Linked DNA regions of Homo sapiens: region 2 is linked to region 1. Evidence: fine-mapped expression QTL. Tissue or cell type: whole blood. Region 1 holds a variant in brackets; the other region holds the start of a gene. All regions are shown on one strand. Distances are from middle to middle.

Evidence for each region. PIP is the estimated chance that this variant, and not a neighbour inherited with it, causes the effect.
Region 2: ARHGAP32 starts here. The variant in region 1 is fine-mapped to the expression of ARHGAP32 in whole blood (INTERVAL, PIP 0.93).

What each region holds. Positions count from the first base shown.
Region 1 is chr11:129,360,926-129,369,033 of GRCh38, reverse strand. No RefSeq gene overlaps it. Among named protein-coding and RNA genes, the nearest start is that of BARX2, 11 kb to the left of the region's middle. The variant C/T (reference allele first, on the strand shown) is at 3,942.
Region 2 is chr11:129,188,613-129,196,720 of GRCh38, reverse strand. It overlaps ARHGAP32 (Rho GTPase activating protein 32), which reads left to right and starts at 4,396. Exons shown (of 23, transcript NM_001378024.1): 1 at 4,396-4,638. The coding sequence starts at 4,523.

The DNA of each region.
Region 1 (8,108 bases):
TGCAATATGCCAATCAGAGAACATAATGGTCTCTGCACTCCAAGCCCTTAAGAAGGAGGAAGTTTGTACAAACTCCTGGACACAGGTGCTAATCATCTACTTAGGTCAAAGTGTAGACACATGTGTGTATATGAGTGTGTGTGTCTCTCTCTGTATGCCTGCACATATACGCCCTGTGCATACTTCATAACTTTTCTTTCTTCTTCTTCTTTTAAAAAAAAAAAAAAAGAATGAAGAGAGGGCAAAAGGAAGTGATAAAAAGGGAAAAGAAAGACACTTGAAAATCGTGTTTATTAAACAAATTCAAGAGGAATCCTCAGTCTCATAGGGGGAAAAAAAGAAAAGAGAGCTGAGGGAGCCGTCCAGCCTGAGGTTTCACATTTGTAGTATCTTTCTGTCTTGTGCTCAGCCATGGTTAGCAGGCTTTCATGTGTGCAAAGAAAAGTAGACTGTTTCCCTTTCTAAGAAATATTCCACAACTTGAAATATTTCTTACAATTGTAGGCTTTTAAGAGAAAATTGATCTCTGTGAGCTATTTATAAAGAATGTTTTTATATCAGCAGAAATTATAATAACACAGCAAATATGCTAGAAGCAAAATAGAGAAACAAAAAATGATATGGAAAATTCTGGTATTGAATATTCTTAGGCAAAACACTCAAAAACTTAAGAAAATGCAAAATGTCATCAAGAAAATGATAATCTGAGTCAAGTGAATATTTGCTCAAGTTTTTCCATTTGGGGATTTTTACGTAGATAAATATTTTACCTCACTTTGAGCAGACAGCCACGAGGACAGTTTTTATAGATCTCTAATGCTGTGGCATTTCCTTCATTACTTTCCGAAGTTGCTAGGATGCTTGGATCTAAAGAGGCTATAAATTACTAAAGTAAATGAATGATATGGTGCCAATTTCTCTGCGTTTCAATTACACAAGCAGCCTGCCTTTTAAAATTGAATTTGAAGTCATCACAGAAGAGAATCCCCAATTCTATTGCCAGTCCACATCCTGATACGTTTACTTAAGTCAATTATCGAGTTGCTTAGATTATGTCTACAGAAGCTGCCAAAACATCTGGTCATTTCAATCAGTTCAATAAAAGATTCTGCCAAGTCAGGGGGGAAAATTAGTCAAATTACTCATTTGTATAGGCAGAGCAATGGGTTGTTTTCTCTGGGTAGACTGTACATGGATATAACTCAAAAGGTTTTGGTTTTCTCTTCTGAAACCAGAATACAGTTTATAGTTCCTGAAGGAGGTTGTGATATTTATCAGTGTTTGGGAGGTGCTCTGACAGATCTATAGTCCAAAATGTAATGGATATGAAAAGGACTTAATCACGTCTCTGAGACAATTCTGTACTCATTTGAATCCTATGTTCTCAAGGTTGGGACCAAGTCAGAATTAAGCCAGTGGGTTTTTGCTAAATTTTGAAAAATAAAAGTACTAGTACTAGAAATCACAGAATAGTGCCTTTTCGCCTAAAACCCACCGGCATTCCTGTGGATGTATGTCCTCACTTTAACAAAATCTGACACATGATTTGAATTACCAAATACATATAAATATACGGTGTTTCACGGGAACCTCCGCTGCATAAAATGCTGCTCTATAAAATCAAATTAATGCGGTCCTATTATTTCTTCAGTCTCTTCTATGGCGTCTTCGATGGATATTTGAAATTTCAAATGATTATCTTTACTGACCACATAGTGACAGCCCCAAAGAGAAATAAATGCTCAGAGACGGGGAGGAAGAGATTTAGGAGCCCGGCAAGGCTCCTGTTCCTATTACCCTGTTTTTCCTGTCGCATTTACATACTCACTCAATGTTTCAGATCAGAGGATTTTTAATGAAACATTCTAAATAATGATTTAGTTCAGAAGTCTGTATTAGAATACGAGCTCTCACTTGACTAAACATATTGGAAGAAGAAAACAGTTTCATTATTCATTTGGAGCAACATTAAGTACAAATAACCTACCCATGTCTAATTTTATGCGACTTTGTTCTCTGTACATAGATTTGAAGTTTTTTGAAACCTGAGATAATTAGGAACAATTATTGTCATAACTGAATAATATAAACTTTGTATTATGTCTGAGGTGACTCACCCTCCTACTAAATATTCCAGAGTACATGATCTGTTAGGCTGAGGTCTGTGTGTAACTTGTTAAATGTCTATAGCTTAATTGTTAAGAGTTGCTTGTTAATGAATTAGCAACAAAGTCTTTCTGTTTCCTTTAAGAGAGAAAATAGCTCTTTGTTTCAAGAACAAAGAAATTTTAAAAACTCAGTTTTCTAGGTAGGAGGAAGGTAATTTTTCTAAAAGAGAAAAAGGTTTATTTAGAATCTCAGTAGGAGTAGACTCTTGCTTTATGAAGAAAAAAAAAAAAAAAAAAGCCAGAAATTTTACTATAGCTCAACTGAACTGAAGAGTAAGATCTGGGGTCCAGTAAAGAATAATATTCAAGTAGCCAAAAGAGGATTTTAGTTTTGACACAGACAGATTAGAAGTCGGTAGGATCAAGACTTTTTGGAGAATGAGCAGAAGGACCCTGCACTAAGAATGGGATAAAACCAAGGTGGTCAAATGGGGGTTCACAGGGGTAGATCTTCGTTAACTTCTTGTGGACAGAAATAGAATTTGTTTTTCCTTTGTAAGAACTAATGATGCAGAGTTTATGCTTTTATTTATGCAGTATAATTTTGGAAAAGTAAGTTTGACTTCCATGAATATGATGGCTTGGAGAACAGAAATGGAGCAGGGCATGAAGAGAGGAGAGGGTATGACATTGCAGAAAATATGCAGATTCTGGGGTTCCAAAGAACCTCAAAATTATTAACACAAATGAAAAAAAGTGCCCAGTCTTGAATTCAGCTTTGGAATATACACACCCCACATACTTGTAGGTTAACAAGTAGTTTACTGTCCTGATGACAAACTAAGAAGTCATTTACAAGGTAATATTTTGGAGTGCAAAGACCCACATAAAAGAGACTGAATTAGTCACAAGCTGTTTGTGGGAATGTAAATTGGTATGATATTTCTGGAGGGCAGTTTGGCATTATATCTCAAACACAAAATCGATCCAGCAGTCCCAACCTAGGAATTGAAACCAAAGCTGTGGTTCTCAAATATGATTGTACACATAATTTCCTAGGAGTGCTTGTTTAAAAACTGCCCATTCCTAGATTTCCTCCCTCCAGAAATGTGTAGGTGTGACAGTTGACATTTTAAAACCAGCAGTCCTATTGATTTAGCTGCTGTTTAACAAACAGGTTGCCAAAGAGATAAAAATGATAAAAGTGGGACAGGCTGTAAGAAGAAAAAAATGTTAGTTGTAAGAATTCTTAAAATTTAAGGAAATTAGGAAATCTGTCATTTTACCTCTCTGAGCCTCAGTTTCCTTGTCTTTGAGATAAAAGTACATACCCAATAGTGTTATTGTAACACTAAAGATATATATAAATGGTTTAGACAATGACTGACACGTAAAGATCAATATATGTTAACTATTATTACTGCAATGCTGAGTGAAAAAGTCATTGATATAATAGAATGTGCAATACAATTCCAGCTTCAAAACATTGTTTATATACACATGTATATAGGTGCATATAGAGATGTCTAAAAGCATGTTCAAATACTAACAGTGATAATTTATTTTTAAAATGTATTATTATTATTAGAGATAGGTGTCTTGCTATGTTGACCAGGCTGGTCTTGAACTCCTGGCCTCAAGCAATTCTCCTGTCTTGGCCTCTCAAAATGCTGGAATTACAGGTGTGAGCCACTGCACTCAGCCCAGTGATAATTTATTCTATGTAGTTTTGAATATTGTTTACATAGTTTTACAATTGACATTTATCTTTTTTCCTACAAATTATATTTAAGTTCAAAAATATTATAATATTTTACATTCAAAAATAAAAAG[C/T]GAACTTCAATATCTTACATTTGCATAACATTTCCCATTTACAGAAAATTTTCAAATGCAGTACTTCATGTGAACTTTATACAGCCCTATATATGAAAAAAGACAAGTCTTACTATCCCTATTTTACGAAAGAGGAAACTGAGGAAAAGTGGTTTACTTGAGGTTACCCCACACAGCCACATCTACACTTGCAGAGCCAAGTCTCAAACCCGAGTTTTTTGAGTCCAAGTTTCCCATACCCTCTATGGGACAATGTTTTTTCACTGATCTCAGTTATATTTTTCAAAAGAAATGAAATTCCAGTTTTATGAGTTTCTATTTTTCGCTCATCCACCCCCTCATAAAAAATGCTAAGCATTTGATAAAACCGAGGTAAACTGAATATTAAGAGGGCTGACATAAAAACATATTAAAGTCAGGAAATATCACAGTTAGGTCTGGTAGGAAAACTTAACCATCTCATGTGTCATGAGCTTTGGTTACTAGGTAATCCTCTAAATATAGACAGTCCCAATCACTTGTTAAAAATTAACAGCAATTTCACGAGCAGGGAAAGTGAGTTGATAATTATGTGGAACATGGACTGTCCATTGGATTGCTCTGAGTTCTCGAAAGTTTTTCACCTCCTAGCAATCAAGCCCCGGCGTCTCACGGAGCCTTCCCAGCCAAGCCGCTTTGGCTCTGGACCACGTCTGCAATCAGAAAGGATCCTAAGGTACCCGCCACTTCTCAGGGTTGCAGCGTGGCCGCTACTGCCCTCTACCGGACAGCAGGGACGCATGGCGTGTGTGCTGTGGAATCCGGTCTCCCTCTATCGGCACGAAGCAGGTACATTATCAAAGACAGGCTCTCCAGAGGTGCTGCGTCGGCGCTAGTGACTGTCCCAGAACATTGTCTTGGGAAGGCCACCTGGGGGGCTCCTTGACCTCAGCACTGTCAGAAGTGTCACCTGTTGCTATTCTTCCCTAAAACAGATCAAGGGACTCTCTAGACTGGACAGGGAAGCCTCTTTGCCCGTCCTACACTCTAGGGTTAGTTCTGATCATTCTCACCATCAAGGACTTGAATTCTCCACCGAAAATCGTTGTACATGACTTAGCTCTACTTCTGATTAATAAGGGTATTGAACAAGGAGGATTTGAAAGCAGCACATAATACCGGTAGCAACTCTGTAGCATACAACTCTAAGATCTAGGACTGTGCCCTGATGTCACCATTTAAGAGCAAAGTCAGCTCCAGTATAAACAAGCTTTGTGGACCTCAACCGTGAGTAAAAGCTCCGCTTCTCTGAGTTGGTCTCAGGGATCTAATTAGTTTATGGTGGTAGATCTTGAATATGATCAACACTATGTTCATATATTGCATTTACATTAACTCCAGTATACATTTGCCTGCTCTAGATCATGCTTAAATATTTCTGGCTTTTATGGATTAGGTGCACTTACAGTTCCCTGAATTTATAGATGACACCTGGTCTCTTTTAACTTAGGATGTAAACCTTCTTGAGTAAAGGGAGTGGAGGGTCTGGCTGAAAAAGGAAAATGTAAAAGGTAAAATCTTAATAAGAGGATGAATATAAAAGAAGAGAAATAGAAATAATTCAATTTTTCCTGCCATTGATTTTTCTGTCCTGACTCTATGAATTACAAATACAAAGTCATTTGTAGTGACTTTGCTATTTTCCTATAAAAATATATTTCCTTATTTCCCCCCTGCCTGCAATAGAACACACAGAGCCAGTCAGTCTTGCCAGGTATGGAAAACAAGTTTATACATAACTAGAAACCTTTCTTCCCCCTAAAAAATCAAAACAAAACTCCACTTCATGGGACAGGCTGAAACTACCACAAAACTATGGGGAATGATTAAGAAGTTGGCTGAGGTGCTTTCTAATGACTGTTTAGTCAATCAGATAGCTGAGTTTGGGAACAGGATGTTGTTATATTTCTGGATATTTAAATACCACCTTCTTGAATGGCAACATTTTGTTCTTTGTATTACATTGCATTGTTTTCCTTGTAGCAACGTGTTGTAAATCTGTAGTGGAGATAAGTGTATAGAAATTGAATATAGAGATAATTCATCTAGCATATATTTATTGAGCATCTACTTTGTCCCAGGAACTGTGTTGGTCCAAGAAATGTGGTGGTGAACAGCACACACTCCCTTTCCTCACAGTAACAGACCTGTAGTGGAGATAGATGAGTCAACAGGTGCCTACACCCATAGTTAGGAACTGGGAGATTTAAGAGCACGAAGGAGGGGCACTTAGCCCAGTCCGAAAAGAAATAAGGGAAGGATTTCAGAAAGAATTGTTATATAAGGTGAGATCTGAAGGAAGAATATGAGTTAGGAAGGGGTAGAGAAATTCGAGGCAGACAAGAAAAACATCCAAAGCATAGAGGCAAGTGAAAGTGTCTCATGAAGCACCTGCAGTACTTGAGTGTGGCTGAAGTGCAGGTTTGAAGAGGAAAGTGTCCTGAGAAAATGAGAAAGAAGGGCCAGATCATAAAGCATCTTTTATGCTATGTTACTGATTTATATTTTATTCTGAAAACAATAAGAAGTGCTAAATGATTTATGGTAGGAAGGTGACATAATCAGATGTGCTTCTGAAAGTCCGGGCCATAATGTTATAGAGTGTGGATTCAAGGAGAGCAAAATAGAGAGGAGGGAAACCGGTTAAGAAGTTACTGTAGGCCGGGCATGATGGCTCACACCTGTAATCCCAGCACTTTGGGAGGCCAAGGTGGGTGGATCACCTGAGGTCAGGAGTTCGTGACCAGACTGGCCAACATGGTGAAACCCTGTCTTTACTAAAAATACAAAAATTAGCTGTGCGTGGTGGCAGGTGCCTGTAATCCCAGCTATTTGGGAGGCTGAGGCAGGAGAATCGCTTGAACCCGGGAGGCAGAGGTTGCAGTGAGCTGAGAGCATGCTGTTGCACTCCAGCCTGGGCAACAAGAGCGAAACTCCATCTCAAAAAAAAAAAAAAAAGTTACTGTATTTCTATGTTAATCCAAGGGAGAGGTAATTGACTTCTGAAGCCATAGGATGAAGAAAAAGGAGAGACCGAAATGATTTCAAGGAACTAGAATCCATGAAACCCAATAATTATTTTGAGGTAAGAAAATAAAGAAGTCTAAGTCAAGAATGACCCTATTTAATACCCAGAACATAAAAGCTCCTACAACTTAATAAAAAAAATGACTCAATTAAAAAACTGGGCAAATGACTTGAATAGAAATTTCTCCAAAGAATATATATATAAATGGCCATAAGCACATGAAGAGATGCTTAACATCATTGGTCATTAGGGGAATGCAAATCAAAGCCACGATGAGACATCACTTCACCCCTACTAGGATAGCTATAATTAAAGGAGACAGAAAATAGCAAGTGTTGGCATGGATGTGGAGAAATTGGAACCCTTGTACATTGCTAGCAGAAAAGTAAAATGGTACAGATGCTGTGGGAAACAGCTTGGCACCTCCTTAATAAGCATAGACTTAGCATATTACCCAGCAATTCGACTCCTAGGTATATGCCCCAAATAATTCAAAAACAGAAACAAACATATTTTCAGGCAAATGCTTATTGCAGCATTACTTACAATAGCTAAAAGTAGAAACAATCCAAGTGTTTACCAACAGAAAATTAGATAAATAAGAGGTAGTATATACATACAATGGAATAATATTTAGCCATAAAAGCAATAAAGTTCTGATACATGCTACAACATTAATGAATCTGGTAAACACTATGCTAAGTGAAATAAGACAGACACAGAAGGACAAGTGTTATATGATTAAACTTATACATAATGCCTGGAATAGGTAAATTCATAGACACAGAAAATAGAATTGTGCTTACCAGGAGCCAGAGAGAGGGAAAAGTGGCAAGTTATTGTTTAATGGTTATAGAATTTTTGTTTAAGGTGATCAAAAGTTTTGGAAGTAGATAGTAGTGATGGTTGTACAACATTGTGAATGTAGTTAATAGCATTAAATTATACCCTTTTAAAACTGCATAAATGGCACATTTTATACTGCATATATTTTACCACAATTTTAAGAATCAGTAACATAATAGACCAGAAAAATCTCACATTGAATTTGTACACCTTCAATGGGTGAATAATGGCATTGTATGTAAATTATCAATAAA
Region 2 (8,108 bases), 170 kb after region 1:
TGCTAAGTCTCAGTTTCTTCACCTGTAATATGATGGCTCCTGCCTCATGAGGTGGTTGGGAGAATTATATAATTCGTTATGTTTGGGCCTTAATCCAATGCTTGGCATATAGAGTCAGTGCTCAGCATATGCAGTCATCAGTTGGTATCCATGGGGAAATCGTTTCCAGGACACCCTGTGGATACCAACATCTGTAGATACTCAAGTCACTTATATAAAATGTTGTAGTATTTACGTATTACCTATGCACATCTTCTCATACTTTAAATCATCTCTAGATCACTTATAATAACTATCAATGTAAATGTTATGTAAATAGTTGGCATACAGTATTGTTTAGGGAATAATGACAAGAAGAAGCCTGTACATGTTCAATACAGATAGGACCATCCCTCTTTTTTCCCTGAGTATTTTTGATTCAACCAAGAGGTTGAATTCATGGATGCAGAACCCATGCATACGGAACCTGTGGGCCAACTCTGTTGCTGTGATTATTACTACTTACCACTGCTACTAGGAAAGTCAGCACTTTTAACAATGTTTCTCTTCGAAAAAATTCATTCTGACTTGCAGTGTTTAAATTGTTGCTGTAAGAATGCTTCTCTCTTTGCTGCTGTGGGATTAGCTATTTCCCTTCCCCTCAGGTTCCCTACCTCTTGGAGGTAGAAGATGAGAACCAGCTAGTTCGAAATTACTGCTGGTGACTCCTGTGGTTTCAGTCAAAGACTTCAGCTCCATAAAAGCTTGTTGGGAAAGTGAAGGCTGATCAGGGTTTAAACAAATCAGGAAGAAAAGGAGTTAAAACCACCTTGTGGTCTTCAGCAGTATCTAGTCTCTCTCACACACTGGTAGCCAGAGTGATGGACTCGGCTGTGTTCCATCCCTGCCCCCGCTGTTAACCATCACCTGTTGATTCCGCTGGATTTTCATTTACTACTGGAGAAGGGAACAGAAAACAGAAACACATGTAGGTTTTGAATTTAAAAACTTTTTTTCCTTTTTTTTTGAGACGGAGGTTCGCTCTTGTCTTCCAGGCTGGAGCGCAATGGCGTGATCTCGGCTCACAGCAACCTCCAGCCGAGGCGGGTGGATCACTTGAGGTCAGGAGTTTGTGACCACCCTGGCCAACATGGTGAAACCTCTTCTCTACTAAAAATAAAAAATTAGGCGGGTGTGGTGGCGGGTGCCTGTAATCCCAGCTACTCGGGAAGCTGAGGCAGGAAAAACATTTTTAAAAAACTTGTGATGGCAGAGTCAAAACAGAACAAGCCTCGGAAGATGTGCACATTTAACTGTCCTTCAGTATTCTGTGTAAAAATACCACTCACAGTTCACGTTTTCACTTTTGAAAGGCTCGAAGTGAGGGAAATCAACCATCATAATGAAAGAACAAAAGAATGATTAAAAGAAAAGGTGAATAGGATTCATGAAAACGCTTTGAGGCCGGGCACAGTAGCTCATACCTGTAATCCCAGCACTTTGGGAGGCAGAGGCAGGCAGATCACTTGAGATCAGGAGTTCGAGACCAGCCTGGCCAACATGGTGAAACCCCATCTCTACTAAAAATACAACAACAACAACAAAAATTAGCAGGTGTCGTGGCACACACTTATAATCCCAGCTGCTTGGGAGGCTGAGGCAGGAGGATTGCCTGAACTGGGAGGTGGAGGTTGCAGTGAGTCGAGATCGTGCCACTGCACTCCAGCCTAGGTGACAGAACAAGACCCTGTTTCAACAAACAAACAAAACAAAACAAAACAACCCCCCCCCCCACAAAAAAACAACACTTTGAAGGAGTTAGAGTTGTTTAGAAAAAAAAGAACTAGATTCTTAATGAAATAATATTTAAAAATCCAATTCTTTACTGAAGGTCATGAAAGATTCTATTTAAAATTAGTTAATATTTTGGTAAGGATTATATGTGCATGACATAGTGAAAAACTATCTTTCTTTCTTCTTTTTTTTTTGAGACGGAGTTTCACTCTTGTTGCCCAGGCTGGAGTGCAATGGCGTGATCTCGGCTCACTGCAACAATCTCCACCTCCCGGGTTCAAGCGTGTCTTTCTTTTATTCCTCTTCTCCAGCTGTCTGTTTTCCTCCGTGGAGACAACTACTGGTACTAGTACTGATCCTCTTCTTCCATAGATAGTCTGCATTTGTTTCTCCTAACTCCTCATTGAAAACACAGATGGCAGCATAGCATACTGCACATACTGCCCTATACTTTTACCCCTTTCTTCTTTGCCTTAACAGTATTCCTTAGGCTTTGTTCCGTATTGTGACCTGTAGGGCTGCCTTGTTTTCTCATATACTCACTGTGTAGCATTCCATTCTATGGGTATTCTGTAATTTGCCTAGTTTTCTATTCCTCAGGAAGTTAGGTTGTTTTTGCTATCCTATTTTGCTACTATAATGTCTACCAGAATGAATGTTCCTGTTTGCCTCTTACTTCTACTTGTGAAAGTGAGATAATTTCCTAAAAGAGAAATTGCTGGGCCAAAAAGATGTGCATTTTGAATTTTGGTAGATTTTGCTAAATTGCCCTGAACACAGGTTGTACCAGTTTAAACTCCCACTGACAGGCATGTTTCTTTTCCCATGTCCTCTTTCAGTTTGTTAAAACCTTTTAAAAGCTTTGCCTATGTGATAGATTTTTTAAAAGTCATCTTATTATGTATTGTTTTACATTTCTGTTATCAGTGAAGTTACTTTTAACATCTTTTAAGTTTCTTTTATGTTTATCTCTGAGTATTATATTTTTGCTCTTTGCCTATTTATCTTTTGAGCTCTTGGGTCTTAGAAGTTTTTAAGAACTTTTTATATATTAAATAAATTAACCCTTTGTGATATGTTTCAAATATTTTTTTCTCAACTTGTTTGCATTTTGACTTTGCTTATAATGTTGTTCTGTTGTTTTTGGTTTAAAAAATTTTTTTTGAAAAGTTTTTAAAATTTATATATGTATTATATGTATTATATAATATATATTATATATAATATATAATATATAATATATATTATATATTATATAATATATATTATATATTATATATAATATATATTGTATATGTATTATATAACATATATTATATATATTATATAACATATATTATATATTATATATAACATATATTATATAATATATATATATTATATATAATATATATATATTATATATAATATATATATTATATGCTCTAGGGACCTGCATATATATATATTTTTTTTTTTTTTTTTTTGAGACAGGGTCTTGCTGTGTTGCCCAGGCTGGAGTGCAGTGGCGTGATTATGGCTCACAACAGCCTTGAACTCCCAGGCTCAGGCGATCCTCCCACCTCAGCCTGTTGAGTAGCTGGGACTACAGGGTGCACCACCACACTTGGCTGTTTCCCGCCCCCCCCCCCCCCCCCCCATAAAGATGAGGTCTCGCTAAGTTGCCCAGGTTGGTCTTGAACTCTTGAGCTCAAGTGATGCATCCACCTCAGCCTCTCAAAGTGTTGGGATTACAGGCGTGAGCCACTGTGCTTGGCTCTTTATTTTTCAAATATGAAAATTCAAGAAGACTTCAGTAGATGTCTTCTTAATTTTTGATTAAATCAGATACAGTGGAAAGTCAGGGCTTTGCAGTTTGTTGCTGCTTGGTAAAAGACAAATAGCCATGAATATCCAGCAGGTCAGTAGTTTCTGTCAACATGGCTCTTTTCTAAGTAACAGTTGTGTTGTTGACAGTCATAGATGCTATACCTTTCACTCATTTCCCAGCAAGTCATTTTATTGCCACCATGACTGTTTGCAGTTTAAATGTGTAAAACTTTGCATGCTTTTATTTGATGTGATTGTCAGCATCTTTGAACTTGGGACACTTAAACTTTTTTCTTTCAAGGACTGTGGACAAGCCCAGCTTTTATGTCTCACTCTGGATACTTGAGCAGAGATGCATATGGCAGTCCTTACTGAGAGGAAGGAAAGATGGGTGTAATATTGGAAGGCATGAACCTAGGCAGGTCCCTAGAGCATACTTATCTTCTCTACTTATTGTGAGCCTCCTTAACTGTGAGATCTATAACTGTGCTTCTCATGTGCTTGGCCAGTGGATGGTGTTATTCTTTCTAGTTTTCTATTTACCTTTCTGGAGTCCGAGATCAAAAAAGGATACAAATAAAGCCTGCATTTTGAAAATACCTATTTTTAACTTATTAAGTGGAAACTTTGAGAAGAGTCATTATTACAGAATAATTAGTAAAAAATCACCTTCATTTAGATTCTGCTTTTGGTTATGTAGGTCACGCAGCCTAAGGCAGTGGGAGGGTCTAGGTGTCACCAGTATGGCAGTCAGACGCAGTGACTGTGCTGCCTGTGATTTCCTGTCTGTACCCTGACTGTAATTAAACCAGCACCAGTACCTGTCACTAGGGCACCAGACACACATCTGAGTATACATGAGTAGAGCTGAACAACCTGAATGTTGGTGCTTTTTATTCCATGCCTGGAGGTTTAGTTTTTTTTGTTTTTTAAGTACAAGATGGAGACTGAAAGTGAGAGTAGCACTTTAGGGGATGACAGTGTCTTCTGGTTGGAGTCTGAAGTTATAATCCAGGTGACTGACTGTGAAGAGGAAGAAAGGGAAGAGAAGTTCAGGTGATTATGGAATTCACAGTTCCTTTGTCCTGTCCACTCCCTACCCCCACCCGCACCCCTTTTTCTTCTCTGCATTTCGGTCTTTTTTCCAATAAGACTTTCTGTTTTCTGGGGGAAGGTTTGGAGCTCAAGGGAGCAGGTTTTGAGTTGTATATAGCACTCCTCATTCCACAACTTGCCCTGAACTTGTAAAATGCATTTTAAAGGACTTGTTAGAACGCCAGGAGGAGAAGGTGTTAGACAGGTTTTGTAGTAGCCTTTCAGGAATTTCAAGTAGACACTCATAATGAACTACTACCCCTTCCTGTATCTGATTTGTATCAAATAGATTTGATCTGAATTTGTATCTAATAGATTTTTCTTCCTCTTTTTCTTGGAATGTGGTGTGTGTGTGTGTGTGTGTGTGTGTGTGCGTGCCTGCCTGCCTGCCTGCTTTGTTTGCCTTATGCATGGGTATGAAAAATTCCGATTAAGTACAGATTGGTTATTTTGTGGCTTTGATCTTTACCCTTGTCTCTGATCTTGTATCTCATGCCCCCTTTCCCCCAAATCTCTCTTGGTTTTTGAATCTCTGGTAGTATTAGTAACTTCATAATTGAAGTTTTTAGAGGATGCCTCCTGATGAAGCAGCTCTCAGTTTAGTGTCTGTGGTGAAGAAAGATGTCTTAACCAGTTTGTGAAAACAGAACCAATGTTTCATTCATTCTGTTGTACTGTTGCAAATTTTAGGGGGCTTTATTCTGGCTTTTCTTTTTCTTTCAGAGTTAGCGATGTAATACCTTTGAGTATCACAAAAATCTCTTGATGAAGTTTGAAGTTTGTTGCTGCATATTATCACTGCCACTCACATGTGCAATTAAACATCTTTTATAAGTTTACCTATGAGAACTTGGATAGGTGAATATACTGTTTTCATCAGATACTGTCTTTGTGTTTAATGCTGAAAAAGAGTTTCTCCTTTTCTCGAGTCAAAGGATTTCTTTATCCACAAATTTTATTTTTTAAAGTCTAGGTTAAATGATGGAAGGGATTGAATATTGGGAACTCTTGATAACCCTCACTAAATTTTTTACTCTGGGGTTCAAATAAATGAGAAGTATATTTAAAATTTTAAAAGAATAATTTTCAGAGTATAAAAATGAATTATTAGCATATGATTATTTTTTGTCTGAACTTTTGTCTCATTTTCCCATAATTTTATCTAGCCTTTCAAATTTGAGTAAGTCCCTTCCCTTCCAAGGTATGCTAATTGTTAGTCACATGTTCTGCTTTTTAATATGGTTTGTGTCTTGCTAACAATGAGTAGGACTGAAGTATTTGTTTTGCTTGTAATAAAACTTTTTGACCTGGTATTCAAATTATGGAAGTTATTTGGGTATTTGTCAAAGGAAGAAACAACTTGGAACTTATTTCATTGTTGTTTTTATAACAGATTTGGTACTGTAATCCTAGATTTACTTGTAAGGCAGTGGGCGTCTCTCTGGGATTTTCTTTTGACAGTTAAAAGCAAATTTGTGTAAGGATGAGCTCTTCTTTTCCTTGGGAGTATGTGACAGCATTTTCACTCTGAGAAACTGAGCTAGTGATGTGTTGTTTAAGGAAACTATGATACCATAGGGCATTTCTCTTCTGTTTATATTTCCTATCTGAATAGCACCATGGCTCTCCTAAATCAATTATATCTTTGTGATTTGATCTGATTTTATTTACAAATGTAACAAAGAGGTCTGGGCAAGGCCCAATTTCATGTAGTGTCTCTCACGCATTCAGCAGTGAGGCATGAGGAAATGTGGCAGCAGAGTGGTTTCACAACCTCGTGGTGGTGTTCCTGCCGAGATGCCCTACAGGAAAATGGAGGCATGGGTGTGGAAGGGGAAGGGTCGGATAGGAGTTGCAGCTGTAACCTTGGGAGGACCAAATAGTAGACTCAGTGTGGTATGACAGTTGTTTTTGTAAAATCAATGTAATAATTTTAAAAATGTCTTACTGTGTTTTTATAAAAATCTCTGCAAATACATGTGACATCAAGCTGTCGTATTGGTTACATTTCCATTCACATACACACACATAGCTGAGATGAGGGCAAAAGATTGTGCACTTTTCTTTTTCCCTGAATAGCTTGTAAACTACATTTTAAATGCACTCTTAAAAGCCTGCTCTTGTGTAACTTAAGGCACCATGGCTAAGAGAGTAAAGTCATACCACACCTAGAATGTAGGCTTCTGGTGCTTCCAGGTGCCATCTGCTTTAGGAGGAAGTAGTCTCAGAGACAAGTTAATGTTTGTCCAGTAGCTTTTGAAATAGCATTTATTTTTGGACTCAGTTGGAGGAAAGGATCCTTTTTATTAACACTCTTTCACTATGGGAAGTTGCCGGTCTCCTTCATGGTGGTAGTTTAAATTTGTCTGCCATTGACTCACAGATCTTTCATTTTCTGATTTCTTATTTGTAGTCGGTATTATTACCTACCTTGTCACTGTGGTAAAATAGTTATTAGACTAGAATATTTAGTCCTTAGAATAAAATAGTTCCTAGAGATGATTAGAAAAATCCATCCCTGGATAAGAAGGAGGAATATAAGGCAGAAAAGGAAAAACATAAATGTTTTAATTCTATCAAGAAAGAAAAACTTTACTTAGAAATTGTTATATGTAATGTACTAGGCCATATATATGCTTTATACAGTGTATCAGTTAACTGCTTATCACTCCTATAAAGCAGGTATCATTTTTCCTATTTCCTCGGTGAGGAATTTATGGCTCAGAGAGTCACACAGCCCACATTTGTCATGGTGGAGCAAAATTTTGCAAGTGGTAGCACAAAAATTTGAACCCAGATGTAACTGACTTTGAAAGTGAAGACTTTAATGAAAGATTTTTGGGGCTATCTTCTGCTAAATGCTATTTTCTGCTAAGTGATAACTTATAAGAGGCTACAGCTGATATCTCAAGTTTTGAAATTCCTTTTTTTTGAGGAGGTTATGAGCATCAATGACATATAGATTATGTGACCATCATAAAAATGAAGTAATGAACACAATAATGTGACTTTTAAAAAATGTGACCTCTAGGACACCTAGGAATCATGAAAGGTTCTAGTTCTTTGGCATTTGAAGGTAGAAATGTTTATCATATGATTTTGTTTAGACTTCCCTAATACCACGTTATGGGCTGATAGACAGCCTGGCAAATATGACATATAATTTGAAGCAGCTACAGAGATGATATAGTGCTTAATTGAACCATATTTTTGATCACGATCTGTAGATGCCCAGATCGCTGATCTTCACGTATATCTCCATTATTAAGGCAATTCATTTTAAGTGACGAGAAAGTTCTGACTTTAGTTAAACTGGATGATTTGGTGAACATATTTTAATTGGGGGGGACAATGCCTTTATTGATTTATAGCATTATAGAACTAATGATACTTCATGCACTTGACTCGTTGGTTGGTTGCATTATTCATCC